4 linked regions of the Homo sapiens genome follow. The protein of the gene in region 4 purifies or fractionates together with the protein of the main gene of each other region. This does not show direct contact. Each region holds a gene or a part of one and is shown on either strand. Other genes may lie near its edges.

What was found. Proteins that work in one complex are often made in the same cells at the same time.
Region 1: the proteins of LGALS7 (region 4) and SLC12A7 purify together in Homo sapiens (affinity purification with mass spectrometry, with the first as the bait; one large-scale study listed by BioGRID). This does not show direct contact.
Region 2: the proteins of LGALS7 (region 4) and SFMBT1 purify together in Homo sapiens (affinity purification with mass spectrometry, with the first as the bait; one large-scale study listed by BioGRID). This does not show direct contact.
Region 3: the proteins of LGALS7 (region 4) and PKN2 purify together in Homo sapiens (affinity purification with mass spectrometry, with the first as the bait; one large-scale study listed by BioGRID). This does not show direct contact.

Annotation. Positions count from the first base shown.
Region 1 is NC_000005.10:1,074,064-1,077,563, reverse strand, and holds part of SLC12A7 (solute carrier family 12 member 7), read left to right. Parts: intron 1-751; coding exon 752-870; intron 871-1,327; coding exon 1,328-1,426; intron 1,427-2,073; coding exon 2,074-2,193; intron 2,194-2,892; coding exon 2,893-2,997; intron 2,998-3,500. UniProt on the Homo sapiens protein: Mediates electroneutral potassium-chloride cotransport when activated by cell swelling. May mediate K(+) uptake into Deiters' cells in the cochlea and contribute to K(+) recycling in the inner ear.
Region 2 is NC_000003.12:53,036,074-53,039,573, reverse strand, and holds part of SFMBT1 (scm-like with four MBT domains protein 1), read left to right. Parts: intron 1-3,500. UniProt on the Homo sapiens protein: Histone-binding protein, which is part of various corepressor complexes. Mediates the recruitment of corepressor complexes to target genes, followed by chromatin compaction and repression of transcription.
Region 3 is NC_000001.11:88,830,773-88,834,272, reverse strand, and holds part of PKN2 (serine/threonine-protein kinase N2), read right to left. Parts: intron 1,530-3,500; coding exon 1,422-1,529; intron 1,197-1,421; coding exon 1,116-1,196; intron 1,029-1,115; coding exon 825-1,028; 3' UTR 1-824. UniProt on the Homo sapiens protein: PKC-related serine/threonine-protein kinase and Rho/Rac effector protein that participates in specific signal transduction responses in the cell.
Region 4 is NC_000019.10:38,770,718-38,774,976, forward strand, and holds LGALS7 (galectin-7), read right to left. Parts: upstream 2,801-4,259; 5' UTR 2,776-2,800; coding exon 2,770-2,775; intron 2,387-2,769; coding exon 2,298-2,386; intron 1,314-2,297; coding exon 1,112-1,313; intron 423-1,111; coding exon 309-422; 3' UTR 251-308; downstream 1-250. UniProt on the Homo sapiens protein: Could be involved in cell-cell and/or cell-matrix interactions necessary for normal growth control. Pro-apoptotic protein that functions intracellularly upstream of JNK activation and cytochrome c release.

The sequences.
Region 1 (3,500 bases), on a different chromosome or scaffold from region 4:
CCAGAGGTGCCTGGTCTGTTGTCTGGTCAGAAGCCCTCTGCCTGCCTGCCACATCTTTCTCTGTGTGGCTGAGCTCTTCAGCCCGTGGGAGGTGGCGTCACCAGCCACCTGCAGCCAGTGTGTGTGGCTGCTCTGAGGATTGCACGGACGCCCGCATGGGTCCTGTCCGTGTGCTGTGCCCAGAGCTGCCGATTGTGGCTCCTCCTGCTACCTGGGCCCAGGGGCAGCTGTGGGAAGGTCGTGGATGGCAGAGCCATCCTTGCCCGTCGCTGGTCCCTCGGCAGGGTGCCGACCCGCAGGGCCTTTGTGTGGTTGCATCTTCAGTCCCAGCCGGGCCTAGGGCATGGTGTCCAGGAAGGGGACAGGCACACAGGCCCCGTGGGCCTCAGCTTCTGGGAGGTGAGGGTGGCCTGATGAGAAAGGTCACCACAGGGTCTGGGGAACCGCGAGTGCCCTGGAGACGCTGGTCCTGTGTTGTGTGGTCGGGGAAACTGAGGCGGGGGGGCAGGCTGGGGCCACACAGGTTGCAGGCAAGCCGGGCGTAGGCACAGCTCTGAAGCCTCCTGGGCTGCAGCCCTTTGTCAGGGCTTCTTCCCAGGCCAGCCGCGTGATGTCCCGGGGACCTACTGTGAAAGGCGTTTCTGCTGGTCTGTGTCTTTAAGATTCATCTGGGCTAGACCTGACCAGCCTGCAGCTTCTCTCCTAAAAGGGTGGTGTCATCTGCCCCATCTTCCTGCCCTTCTCCCTGCAGGTGTTTGGCCACGGGAAGGCCAACGGGGAGCCCACGTGGGCGCTGCTGCTGACAGTCCTCATCTGCGAGACTGGCATCCTCATCGCCTCTCTGGACAGCGTGGCCCCGATCCTCTCCATGTGAGCCCCCACAGGACGGGGACCTGGGGATGGGTGTATGGGCCTGGAGCGTGGGGCAGTGTGGATGGGAGGTCCTGCTCAGGACAAGCAGTAGACAGGCATGGCCAGCTGTGGGCAGTCAGGATCCTGCCGGGAAGGGAGTTGCGCCGGGGAAGACAAGTACACAGGCCTCCAGGCAGCCGCCCGCTGGGGTCAGCCAGGGACAGTGTGGCTGGACAGACGGCTGCTGGGGAAGGGACGATGGCCCATCTCTTGATGGACCAGGTGGTCACAGGATGGCTGGAACCTGAGGGGGCCTGATTCGGAATCAGTCTGAGTCAGCTCACGTGCAGAGACAGACATGGGGAGACAAGGCGCAGGTGGGAGGGACAGTGACAAGGGTGGTCTCCCAGGTGGCAGTGACTGGGGGCTCAGGGGGGCCCAGTGGGCCCGTATCAGTGGCCGGCCGTCCCTGCAGGTTCTTCCTCATGTGCTACCTGTTCGTGAACCTGGCCTGCGCCGTGCAGACCCTGCTACGTACCCCCAACTGGCGTCCACGCTTCAAGTTCTACCACTGGTGAGGCCACTCAGCACGGGCGTGAGGAGCCCCACAGGCTGGGACACTGGGTGCCTCTGCCACTGGTGAGGCCGCTCAGCACAGGCGTCAGGAGCCCCACAGGCTGGGACACTGGGTGCCTCTACAAGGCCAGCTGCTCTGGGCCTGAAGACCCCAGCGCGTCCTTGACTGTTCCTTTGCGGAGTAAGCCCCTGCGCAGCTGATGAGACTGCACCTGAGGAAGGCCTCTGGTTACGAGGATGCCCAGGTGTCTGCATGTGCCTTGTACCTCCCGTGGTCAGCCCAGCCTTCCCAGGCTTGGGGCGTAGCCCATCAGGGCTGTGGGTCTTCTTAACTCCCCTCCCCAGGAATCAGGCGCTGGGTGGACGCTTCAGCCCCTTGTTGCATGCACAGCCGAGGTGCTGTGTGCACGCTGGGAGCTGGAGCTATGTACTGGGTTTTGGAGTGACAGCTCCCACAGGGGCCCAGGGAGCCACGTCACCCCTCAGAGGTGGTTGAGTACAGCCATGGTCGTCAGGCGTCAGTGACTGTTTTCCTAGTGTTAACAGAGAGTTTTACTGAGGGAGGGGCAGTGTCCGTGTGGTGGTGGCTGAGGTGTGGGGGCTGCATGGCGTTGGGCCGCCCCGAGCCACTTGCCCCGCCCCCAGGACCCTGTCCTTTCTGGGTATGAGCCTGTGCCTGGCGCTGATGTTCATCTGCTCCTGGTACTACGCGCTGTCCGCCATGCTCATCGCTGGCTGCATCTACAAGTACATCGAGTACCGCGGGTAAGCGCTGTCAGCCCCCCTTACAGACCCGGCGCACGGGAGGGCGGGCCCCTCTCATGCTATGCCTGGGGCAGCTCCCTGGAGGGGCCTCCCTGGGGCTTGAGCGTCGTGTGCCCTCACAGGGGCAGCTGGGAGCACGTCCAGGTGGGCTGTGTTGTGAAAGCTGGGGTTTCCCTCCCACTTCCAGCCAGGCCGAGGTGCCTGCACTTGTGGACAGGGTCTCCAGCCTGGAGCTCTGTCTCGTGCCGTCCTCAGCAGGCGGTGAGCCCACGGCTGACTATTCCTGCTACGTGTCTCGCGAGGTGTCCCCAGGTTGTGTCTGTACTCACTCGGCAGCCACAGGCGTCCTTCCCCGTGCCCCAGCACCCACCCTCCCTCCACCTGCACCCGCCTCGTGCCCGGGGTCCAGCCACTTCCCTGTCATGGGCCTCCTGTCCCCCGTCCTGTGAGGAAGGCACCTCACGCATGCTGGACGTAGACCTCGTTCCCTCCACAGCCACAGCACCCTCTGACCCGGTGGCTCCTAGGACGGGCTCCCTTCAGGGCAAGGGTGGGCATGGAGGCCTCCCTCCTCATCCAGGGACTTTTCCTGGGGGTCCTGTTTGCCCCAACTCACCTGCCCCCAGAAGTCCCCTTTCCCAGGTGGGAGAGGAGCCTCCAGGTACGCGGCTGGACAAACCCCGACTTCCTTTCCCACAGGGCCGAGAAGGAGTGGGGCGATGGCATCCGTGGCCTATCCCTGAACGCCGCCCGCTACGCCCTGCTGCGCGTGGAGCACGGTCCCCCCCACACCAAGAACTGGAGGTGAGCACCGCCCATGCCCCGTGGTCCTCAGACGCACAGAAGAGCTGTTTCTGAGGTCGGCCTTTGAGTGGGGACCTTTGAGTCTCAGGGGCCTCTCACCTTCAGCCGCTCAGGCAAGGTCTGGGGTGTGAACACTGCCTGGTGCAGAGCGGATGGCGCAGCTGGGGGCCGGGGGTGTCCCTGCTGCAGGGTGGGGGTGTGGGGAGCCGGCCCCTCTGCCAGCACAGCCCTGGGCTTGGGGTGGGAGAGGGTGGCTCCTGCTGAAGCAAAGGCCATCTTTGGGAAGCCTCTGCCCCTCAGGGCCTCGGCGGGGGCCTCAGGTGTGTGCCCCGGGCCATTGTCCCCTCAGGGGCCTCGGCGGGGGCCTCGGGTGTGCCCCGGGCCATTGTCCCCTCAGGGCCTCGGTGGGGGCTTCAGGTGTGTGTCCTGGGCCATTGTCTCACCTGTCTAGCATGTCACCTGTCCCACCTGTCTAACCTACCTGTTCTCCTGTCCTGCCTGGC
Region 2 (3,500 bases), on a different chromosome or scaffold from region 4:
TTAAGTACATTGACATTGTTGTGTAACCATTACCACCATCCATCTCTAGAACTTTTTTAATCTTCCCAGACTGGAACTCTGTACCCATGAAACAGGGATTCCCCAACTCCCCTCCTCCCACCCTAGACAACCACTGTTCTACTTTCTGTCTTTATGATTTTGACTATTCTAGGTACTTCATCTAAGTGGAATCATACAGTATTTATCCTTTTGTGATTGCCTTAATTCACTTAACATAATGTCTTTAAGGTTCATCCATGTTGTAGCATGTGTCAGAATTTTTTTTGAGGAAGTAAATTATTTGAAAGACTTCCACAGCAGGTAAAGTGGAGGTCAGGTCACAGAATACTGTTTGCTAGGATTTGTTTACCTCCCTTGGAAGAACTCCGTATGTGCCCAGCAGAGCCTAGAGAACCAGGTACCTTGTCCTTAGATACAGTTTGGGCACACTTGCTTATTCGAACAAAAGAAACAGAGCAGATTGTGACAGCAGGGTGGAAGACAAGGAGAACATAAAAGCAAAGGTTGCAGGAGTCCAGGGTAACATTGAGTAAGGAGTAAGGCCTTTTGGGTCTCAGGATGCCATCTTACTGTGTGATCACTGACATTCGTGGTGTGGGCCTGTGTCAAAGCATGTCGTCCAGAACAGTTAACCAAAAAAATATGTGTGTTCAGAATTGTAAATAAGCCTTCACCTATCTGAAAGGCATATTCAGTGACTCAATCCCCAGCTGTTCTGGTTAGTTGAGGTTTTGCCATATTTCACTCTTGTTTCTGTATTGATAGAAAACTAGTACGTGTTTAAAAAGGCTTAATGACTTACATAATAATGATACCACCTAATTAATGCTTTGTATTTTAGATTTGCTGTATCACTTTAATTCTGTATTTGTGAAATATAGATGTCCAATCCTGGTTGGAGAGAAAGCAGGTTTGACAGTTAAGGGTAATAGAGAGTTGAGCAGGTATGTACTTTCAGAATGGTTAAAGAGTTATATTTTCCTCCATTATTATTTTTAATGGCTGTATTAATGTAGTAAATGTGGGATGAGTTTCCTAATACTGTTTGTTACCGGGGGGAGGCCATCTCTTAATTACTGTCCTTTCTTCATGGCAAGGATGTTTTTGACTTTCTGGAAACCATTGAAGAATAGACAGTAAATGTCATGAAGCCTGATTTTTATTGTGCGTTGTGTTACTATTCAATTCTTAAGAATGGTTAGTTGTTTCCTAGAGTTAGTAAGGCTTTTCTGAGAAAGTATCAGTTTCTTTGGCATGATGTTGTCTAATAGAGCATAGAGCCACGGTAGTAAAAGTCAATGGTTAGGGGAGGAGATACAGGGTAGGAGACAGTTGTCTAAACTGGAGTGCCTGGGCTCAAGCACTTCTCCTGCCTCAGCCTCCTGAGTAGCTAGGACTACAGGTGCATGCCCCAGCACCTGGCTAATTTTTTAAAACATTTTTTTTTTGAGACAAAGTTTTGCTCTTGTTGCCCAGGCTGGAGTGCAGCGGTGCAATCTTGGCCACCTCCGCCTCCTGGTTTCAAGTGATTCTACTACCTCAGCCTCCCGAGTAGCTGGGATTACAGGTGCCTGCCACCATGCCTGGCTAATTTTTTGTATTTTTTGGTAGAGACAGGGTTTCATCATGTTGGCCAGGCTGGTCTTGAACCCCTGACCTCAGGCGATCCATCCGCCTTGGCCTCCTAAAGTGCTGAGATTACAGGTGTGAGCCACTGCGCCGGGCCTTTAAAACATTTTTTGTAGAGATGGGGTCTCTCAGTGTTGTCCAACCTGGTCTCAAAACTTCTGGCCTCAAGTGATTCTCTAGCCTCAGCTTCCCAAAGTGCTGGGATTACAGGCATGAGCCACTATGCCCAGCCTGGTTTTCATTTTTATCATTGAGCAAAATGAGCAGGGTTGGGTGGTCTAGCTAAAGATAGAAATTTGAGAAACTTCGGGTGTATTATTGTTGTTATAGGTGTTTATGATGGTATTAAAACATCTGAATCCCTTGATCTCTTAATGTAATTAATATTAATTTAATTTTATTTCTCTTTTAATGTTGGCTTTCCAGTCCTCAATCAAGTTATAGTTGCACTTAAAAATACGTAGTTTTCTTTATCGTTAATATGAATAACACCATATGCAAATTGGGAAACAGGCTTAGATCTTCTCCTAGGCATTATCTGTACCCAGTTTTCCTGTAAGTATTCAATTGGGCTCCTCAATCAACAGAGAAGAGCTTCAAATGACTTTCTTTGTTGTCAGGCTCCATTCTCAGGAATGGCTATGACAAGGGAAGCAGAGGGCTGGGTGGTCTCTTCTGGCCTCCCCTTCTAGGGAGAGTCTTCCTTTTCTGCAGCAAGTGCTTGAGGAGGGCTGCATGATCCCGCAGCCAGTCAGGGCGGTAAGACACAACTGCCCTCACCCTAGCTCCTCTCCTAGCCATTGACTTTTACTCCTGTTTTTGGCTTTCTATTGACTTTGTCTGACAGGAGTGCTTTCCGGAATAGTGTGCTGGTGAAATGTTGGGTTCTCTACAGCCTCCTTCAGAGGATTCCCTGTTCTCCCTATGCCTCGTCTTTTATCTCATTGTGACCTTCATTTTCTCCCAGAGTCCCAGCCCCATCAGGCCTGGACCCACTGTCTAATCTTTGAGCTGCTCCCTAGCCAATCCACTTTGTTCTTTCCCTCTTTCCCTTCTGTGGCCCCGTAAGCCACCTGCAGCCTTCCAGCCAGTGCCTCTCTCTGCTCCTGGATATAGACTACCTTGGAGGAGAATTCAGGTTCTCCAGAAAGACCTGTCTTGAGGCAGACCTTTCTGTCTTTGCCTTCTGTAACCTTTTAAGACCTTCCCTTCTTTCTATTTACATCTCTCTCAATGAAGTTGTCCACATTTAGAGTTTGTCTAGCTCCTGTGCTCCTCTAAGACCCCTACATCCCTGCCCGTTGGGCTTCCAAGTTGGGTGCCACACTGGCATCTCAGAATCCACAGGTCCAAAATAGAATTTCTCCTTCTACCCCAAAGACGCCAGTCCTCTAGTGGGCCTGTTTGCCCAGGTCTCTTTCTTTACATTGCTCCTCAGCGATGGTGTTTGTTTTGTCCACTGGGAGCTTTCCTGTGGGACTTGAGGTCTTATTCTTCAATTGCCAGCCTTGGAGTTAGAACGTACAGTTCTGACTCCTTGGTTTTCAAGTGTTTTTAAAGTTGTGGAACCCTTTGTTCAAATGAAATCTTTCTAGGAAGCCCGATAAGTAAAATAAAATGAGAGTCCTCCTAGTGGAGTAGGGGTGAAGGGCCAGCATCCTGTCCCACGGCAGGATAGCTGGACATTCTCTGCTTCCCTCTCCTCCCAGGCAGGACTGGCGGCTGGCTCTTGGGGCAGCCTTCCCAGTGGATTCTGCATAAATGGAGCTCCTCAGAGTTGCTGTCAGCACTGCTTTGAGGGCATGCTCTATGTTTTAAACCATTTTATCTATTCTGTACCCCACTTCCTT
Region 3 (3,500 bases), on a different chromosome or scaffold from region 4:
CTGAAAGATATGACTGAACATACTGAGCATCTAGACTTTGGGAATGCATACAGGTAACAATATCTTGGTTCGGCTGATTAAAAGTCCTCATTCTTAACATCTTAAGTAAATGCTGATCCTGTTTGTTTCAGCACTGTTTAATAAACAAAAAAAATTGTTTGGCAAGCAGCTCTGTTGGAAAGCTATAAGCCTGTTACATGATTGATAAAAAAGGCAATATAAAGTTTTCTCCTAATAAATATAGAACATTTATAAAATAAGACATCAATTCATTCTGTTTTTTTAAAAAAAATCAAGCCCCGAGTTGTATACAAACTGCCACGGTTTTTGATATTACAGTAATGTCTTTTTTTTTAAAAAAAGGAGCATTTGCCTTATTCAAACAGAATCATACTTTGTGTGAACAGTAATAGCATTCCAAGCCCTTTTTTCTTTTTATAAAACATAGTTAAGTGATTAACTTTCCTTCCACTTAAGGCGGGCATATGGCAAAGCTAGGGACTATAAAAAAGTGGTTTTTTTCTTTCTTTTTAAAAATAGACTATTGATCCAAAAGTATTCGTGATGGATTTTCATGGCCGATGTTCACTCAACTTAAACTCCATGAAACTGTTTCCAGTGCTCATATTTACGCTGAAGTACAATGAGGAGCCACTTTTGAAGAAGTATTAGAATGGTACTTTTAAACAAATCTTCACGTGTTTCAATAAAAACAACAACAACAAAAAACTCAGAAGCTATTGGTGGCACAGAGAGCAAATGAAGGGTTGCTATTTTTAAGAGGTCTTCTTGTGAGTCAGCTTGGTTTCGCAGTGTCTAGCAACTTAACACCAATCAGCAATGTAGTCAAAATCTCTGAACATTTCCTGCTCCTCTTCCGAAAGTATCCTTGGTTCTCGAGGTGGAGTCAGAATAGGTGCTTCTGAGGTAAATTCATCATCAAAATTACTAACATCTTCTCGTCCTCTTATGGTAGGTATAAATGGTGGCTTTACTTTTTTGTCCATCAGAGCGCTCCAATCAATTAGCTGGATCATAAAATAAAAAATGACTAGTTTAGTTTGTTAAATCTAATCGCTCTAGTTTCATAAAAAATTTTAAATAGTCACACTTACCCGGAAAAATGGGTGCTTTTTTACATCCTCTGCATCTTTCTCGCTAGCCCCAAGGCGCCGTTCAGGATTTCTTCTTAACAGCTAGCATAATGTAAAATAAAAAAGTTAAAATAAAACCAATAGAATAAAATTCACTGATAAGGATTATTACTTTAAAAAACTTAGATATATTTTGTCTTTTTTTGTCTAAGCCATGCAACATTTATGAACTGAAAAACAGCTTTTAAAGTTCTACTGGGAAATTTTCTTTAGTATAAAAAATTAAAGTAGTCTTTAAAAAATTCTTATCCTTATTTTAATTCTTACCCTTCTCATTATAGAAATGGCTTCTGTAGATAAGAACCTTGGATACCTTACTTCATCATTTACAATACTGTCAAAAACTTCCTCTTCATCATCACCAGGAAAGGGAGACTAGAAGAAATACCTTTGAGTAAGTTAAAGCAAGTTTTAAGGCAGTAAAATCTTATCACCCATTCAAAGTACAACCAAGATCCAGGCAGTGAAAAAGAAAAAACAGACAAAACAACAACAACAACAACAACAACAATAAACCCATGCCTACCAAAACAACAACAAAAGAACTATAAGAAGTGACAACAGATATGTATCTATTACAGAGGGAATACACCATATACTCTTTCTGAAATCTTTAAATTTTATAGACCCTTATAAAAAACTTGTCTATCTCATATATGATATGACTTTTCATTTAATTTCATTCCACTCCATTCCATTTTATTTCATTCACTCAATCACCTATTTGGCCAGACAGTCAATTTTTAGTGTCTAACAGACAGTAGGGAATATTTAGATAATAGATAAATCCTGAAGAACCTCAATCTTGTGGAAAAACAGAAGAAAATGGATAAGGTTAATATGGTAATAAATGTTATAATAAAGGAAGGCAATCTGCGGAAATACATCAGATATAAATGTGCTTTGGATTTTAAAGTCAACAGTAAATTAATGGTGGTAAAACACAATCATGGATTAGCAAGCATAATGACTGTATTAAGAAGCAGCTGCCAACAAAATTAGACTGAAAGGAACCCAAAAAGCACACATTGCCAGGCATTTTTAATGTTCTAAACACAAAAAGTTTTAGGGCATTTCCATAAGCTCAGTATTAAAATCATTTTTCATAATGACCCTGAGACATAAAAAAGTAGTTACATTATATTCAGTATGACAATTTGATTCACAAAGAGAGAAACTTTCAACTATGCTAAAAACGTGTCTATCAAATGTGACTGCCTGCCTCAGAATTTCAGATGGCTTAAAAATCACTCAGTCATTTTTTAAATCAGGAAACAAATGTCTAAATATCATTTAATTCCTTAAAATCACTGAAATGAATTAGTATCTTGAACCTTATTTTCTCACTGGCTATTGAAGAAATATAGGCTTACTTAGCCTCGTTAGATTTGATTTGGCTGCTTGCTTCCAATTAAGTTTTAAAGAATAATAAGCAGAAAGCAATATCCAGGGAAAGTGAGCAATCTTTAAGAATCTGTGAAAATAAATTCAGAATCCAACTTCTTAAGGCTGAGCTTCTAATCTTGCTCACAGCTAAGAAAATTTCAAAGCTTACAGTTACCAAAACCTTAGTTTGTTCATTCACTCACTCAAAATACATAAATAAAATATACTACGTGGGACAATGTAGTACACTCAAAATACATAAATCAAATGTACTACATGGACAATCTAATTTCTTCTGGGGACTGAAACAGTAAGTCAGAAGAAAATTTTATTTTACTAGGATTCTCAATGGGAATTTCAATGGATAATACAAAGACAGCACTTTGGTCTTCTGCTTGAACAATTTTTACTTGAAAACTCATTCTACAAGTCTGAACAGCAAAGAAATATCTATACATTTGTTAAAATATGTAGTATCTTTTTTCTGCAAATAGATTGTAAGCAAACAGGGCTAACAACTGAAAGCTAACAAATGTGTTTTCAGCACATTTAAAGGAAACCAATAGTCTGTTCAGATGTCAACACTGACAGTATCTAAAACCATGTCCAGCATTCTGTTCAATCTCTCTGGTATCTTCACTCCCATCTGAGACAGGAAAAAGGGGACTTGCGATGTTTGTTTATTCCTGGAGTCTTTCCAGTAATCAAAACTAGTAGAAGTATACAAATCTGAACATGTATAATATATCCGGTGAGTTTACAATTATTTGTAATAATAGAGAAATCTGACATAAACTTTAGCCACACCTTACTTTCATCATAGTTAAAAAGGAGTTATCACTAGCATTTCACTAATGCTATAAAATTATGAAGTAGACTGATGAGTTTTAAGTTTAGTTCTTTTCCCAGCTACCCTCTTGTGGAGATACTAAAGAGAAATTGCAAGAAACAACTGTGAAG
Region 4 (4,259 bases):
AACGCCAGCAGGTCCGCCCGACCGCATTCCCAGCTGGCTTGCTTTGCACAAATGCTGCGTCAGGGCACGCCCCACACCCACTCCTTCCCAGATCGCGACCCTCACGCCTTCGCAGACAGAAAGTGTCCTAAGCACAGGCAGGCTCAGAGCCCGCCTCCGCCTCGGATTCGCTGTGTGGCCCGGAGCCAGTATCTTGGCCTCTCTGGGTCTCAGTTTGCTCATCTCAGTGAATGGGACACAGACACAGTCGCGCTGCGGGCTAACGCTTTATTTGCCAGCCAAGGCCCCGGGCCCGCCTGGGCTTCTGCTCAGAAGATCCTCACGGAGTCCAGCTGCACGTCCCCGCCCACCTCCACCAGGCGCACGCGCGCCAGCGGCAGGCGGTGGCGGAAGTGGTGGTACTGGGCGTCCCCAACCACGGCCTGCAGGGGAGGGTCGGTGGTGAGGATTCCGGAGGCCCGTGCTGGGTGGCCCTGGGGAAATCACTCATCCCCTCTGGGCCTCAGTTTCCTCACTGGGAAAATGGGGCTATTGTTCATTCTAACTCTTGCGTGAGGATCAAACGAGTTGACTGTGTGGCACAGTAAAAAGAGGCTTTTTTAGTGCTGGTAATGGATATTCTCATTTCAGCGACCATTACCCGCTATTAAAGCGCAGAGGAGGGAGGTGAATTCGCGTAAGCTGTGGGTGGTGGAGGATCTGCCGCCACTCCCACCCGCCAATCCTTGCTAGGACGAGTTCCTGGGCGCTGTTTCCAACCCATCCCTCCCCATGCCTCAAACCCCGGACCTCAGGAAGGAATGAACTGGGAGTAGGGTCTGGGATGGCGAGTCTGGGCCACGCCTTCCCGCTAGGACGCCCACCCCTTGGACACTTGGCTGGTGCTCGCCTCGTCCTGACCCTGCTGTCTCTCTGTCCCTCGGACCCAAGTGGGAGTTGTTTAGGCGAGAGAGAGGGTCGAAGGACACCCTTCTCCGCCTTGGCCACGACTTCCCTACCCCCCTCACCCCGCCCCGAACCTCCCTGCCTTCCACCAATAGCCTGGCTTTGCCCAACCCTCTGCTCCAGGGACCTAAGTCTTGGCGTCCACGCCCCTGTCGCAGAGACGCACCTTGAAGCCGTCGTCTGACGCGATGATGAGCACCTCGAAGGGCTGCCCGCGCTGGAAAGGAACGCCCGGCCCGCGCTCCTCGCGGCCCCAGGAGCCTTGCTCCTTGCTGTTGAAGACCACCTCCGACGTGTCCAGCCGGGGGTTGAAATGCAGCGCGGCATCGGAGCCCTGCTCCTCCCCGCACAGCAGGTTTACATGGAACCTGGAAGAGGAGGATGGTGGCCGTCAGGGCTCAGAAACCACCCAGACCAAGAAATGTTGAGGGTGAGGAATACCGATGTCTACAATTTACTTTGAATGAATAAGTAAATGAAATGTTGGCTGGGTGCAGTGGCTCACCCTGTAATCCCAGCACTCTGGGAGGTGGAGAAGGGAGGATCGCTTGGGCCCGGAAGTTAAAGACCAGCCTGGGCAACATAGCGAGACCCCACCTTACAAAAAAACGAAAGAACAAACAAAACATAAACCGCCCAGACCAAAGTGAAGGTCTTATGGACTGGCACTCCCCATTCCCAGAGTACCCCCAAATTAACAGGGACCTGAAGACAGGCACACACCGCAGAAGGAGAGGTAGGCGACTAATGACCAGGGAGCTTAGATTCCCAAGGCAGCCAAAATATCATGAGGCCCTTGGCAGAAACCTACCCAGACCAAACTCACTACGCTTAGGGCAGGGTGCCCTCATTTCCAAAGAGCCTGGGAGCTGCCCAGGAGGTCTGGGTGATAGCCAGGGTGCTCCTGATGCTCAGGGAACCCTCAGCTTCTACAGGACAAAGAATAATACCAGGAACCCCAGTATTTCCAGGGTACCTCAGAATCCAGAAGGCCCGAAGTTCCTTAGCCAGGAAGTCAAAGGATGGCTTGGCAAGGACTCCCAGGGTCCAGGGTGTCTCCAGGACTTGGAGTATTTCCAGAGTTCCCTGGGACTCAGACATGGAAGTCATAGGACTATATCTAGGAACCCTGAGATTACCCAGGGACCTCAAATGCTTAGGGAAACTTAGGGACCCCAGCCACAAAGGCACGGGGGCAAATACGAATACATCAGATTTGAGGTCAGAAATGGCCTCGGACTCCTAGCCTGGTGGATACAGGTGGCCTCGGGCCCCTACTTCTGGACTGCAAAAATTGGGAGTCAGCTGATCCTGAGACCTGTACCCTTTACCCCTAGGGCCTGGGGCCTCACCTGCTGGCATTGGGAGGAACCAAGCCGCGAATTCTCAGCACCGTGCCAGGGCGGATGCCCTCGGGCAGTGAGGACTTGTGGGGGACGTTCTGCAAGAGTGGGGTGCAGGGGCCACTGTGAGCCGGTGAGACCGAAGGAGGGAGGCAGAAGGTGGGTCACCCCTCAGAGGAGCCGACCAGGGCTGAGACTGGCAGAAATCAGTGGAAGAGGAAAGGGTGGCGGAGAGGCAGGAAAGAGACCAGAAACAGACAGGGAAACAGATGGGGAGAGCAACAAAGACAAACAGAAAGATCCTCAAAGAGGGCCCCAGAGGAAGCCACAAAGAGGTAGAGGGGACAGTCGGGATGGGGGTTACCCGGAGGCCACAGCCCAGGCCAGTCCGTGGCACACTCACTGCCCACTTGCTCCTTTGAAAGAGGAGCCCCCAGCCCCCTCCCTGCTTGGCCCCGCCCCGGGCCCCTGGAGCACTCACGGACATGGCTGGGACCGGGTTGGGCAGCCGTGGTGGTGGGGCCTGCTGGGGACCTTAAATAAAAGCAGGGCGGGGCTGGCCCTGATGACTCACCCCACCCCTTCCCACCCACCACCCACACCTGGCACGGACCCTGGCCCTGGGGCAAGCCCGGCGAAGCGGGAGTGGCACCTCTTCTTGGGGGCCCTGATCCCCCCATCACCCAGGGCCCGGGTGCACTGCCCCTCTCCTAGGAGCTGATAATAAGAGGGAATGTTTAATAGTAATAAACTCACAGCAGAGAAGGCTCCTTGTGCCACTGCCCCTCCACCCCTGTCTTCCCGCTGCCTGGCACACGGAGAGCCTCTATCTCATTTCATGTATTTATTTGTTAGTAATTTCTCTTATTTTATACACAGACATATTAGGTCCTGGGAGGCCAATCTGGGTGGGAACTCCAGACCCTTCTCTCCAGCTGAGAACCTCCTGCCTGGACTGATCCGTGCTGAAATCTAAGCTTCTGCCTCTGTAATGGAACAGCGGCCACAATAGGAGCACTAGTGACTGACAGGGTGGCTTCATGGGTTCACAGGGGGCCTGCCTGATCCCCTCAGCGCTGCACCCCTGGGTCCTGGAGTGTGCCCAGTTCATGGAAGTCCTCAGTCAGGAGGGGTGAAAGGAGGGGATCCACTAGGACTATGCCTGTCATTTCCAAGGCCCCTCGGCTGCCCAGGAGATGCAGGAAATCACTGATTGGGACCCCATCATTCCAACAGGGAGGAGTATGGGTCACCCCCATTGTACAGAGGAGGAGGCTGAAGCTGGGATGGGAAGCGATTTGCCAAAGGCAGGAGCGTGCAGGACCCGTTGCCCTGACCTCTGGCTCTCCTCACCTCTGCTCGCACCTCTCCTGTGGGTTCTGTCTCTGGGGCTGGCTGTCTCACTCTGTCCGTCTCTGCCCCTAACTCTGTCTACCACATATTCCTGTCCCACTTCTCTCCTTCAAGTCTCTCTTCTTCCTCCTTCCAGGACTGCTACCATCATGCCACCAAGTTTGTAGGTCAGGATGAGGTGGGTTTTGGGGTGGTGGGTGGCCTAGCATTCCATCACCACCTAGATCAAAAGCAGAGCAAGGCGGGGACCCTCCCGCCAGGCCCGAAACAGCCCCCTTGGGCCTAAGACTCTGCAAGAGAACTCAGGGTTGGGGAATTGGCTTGGTGGAGGGGCGGGTAGGGCTGAAAGATGCTTCTGAAAGGCAGGGATGGTGTGGGAGCTGAGCAGAAACCACTCCTAGCAGCCCAGCAGCCCTCCTGGACCTTTTCCACTCGCCACTCCAGCTCCTGCCCCACCCAGCAGGCTGCTGAGAGGCCTGGGCAGAGGCAGGCTGGCAGTGGAAAGTTTGGGTGGAGACAGCAGACCCAGAACCATCCTCCACCCTCTGCGTCCCAGGCCCCCAGCCTCTCGCCCCCTCCCCACACACTCCAAGGCACCAAGCTCAGGGACCAGTTCTT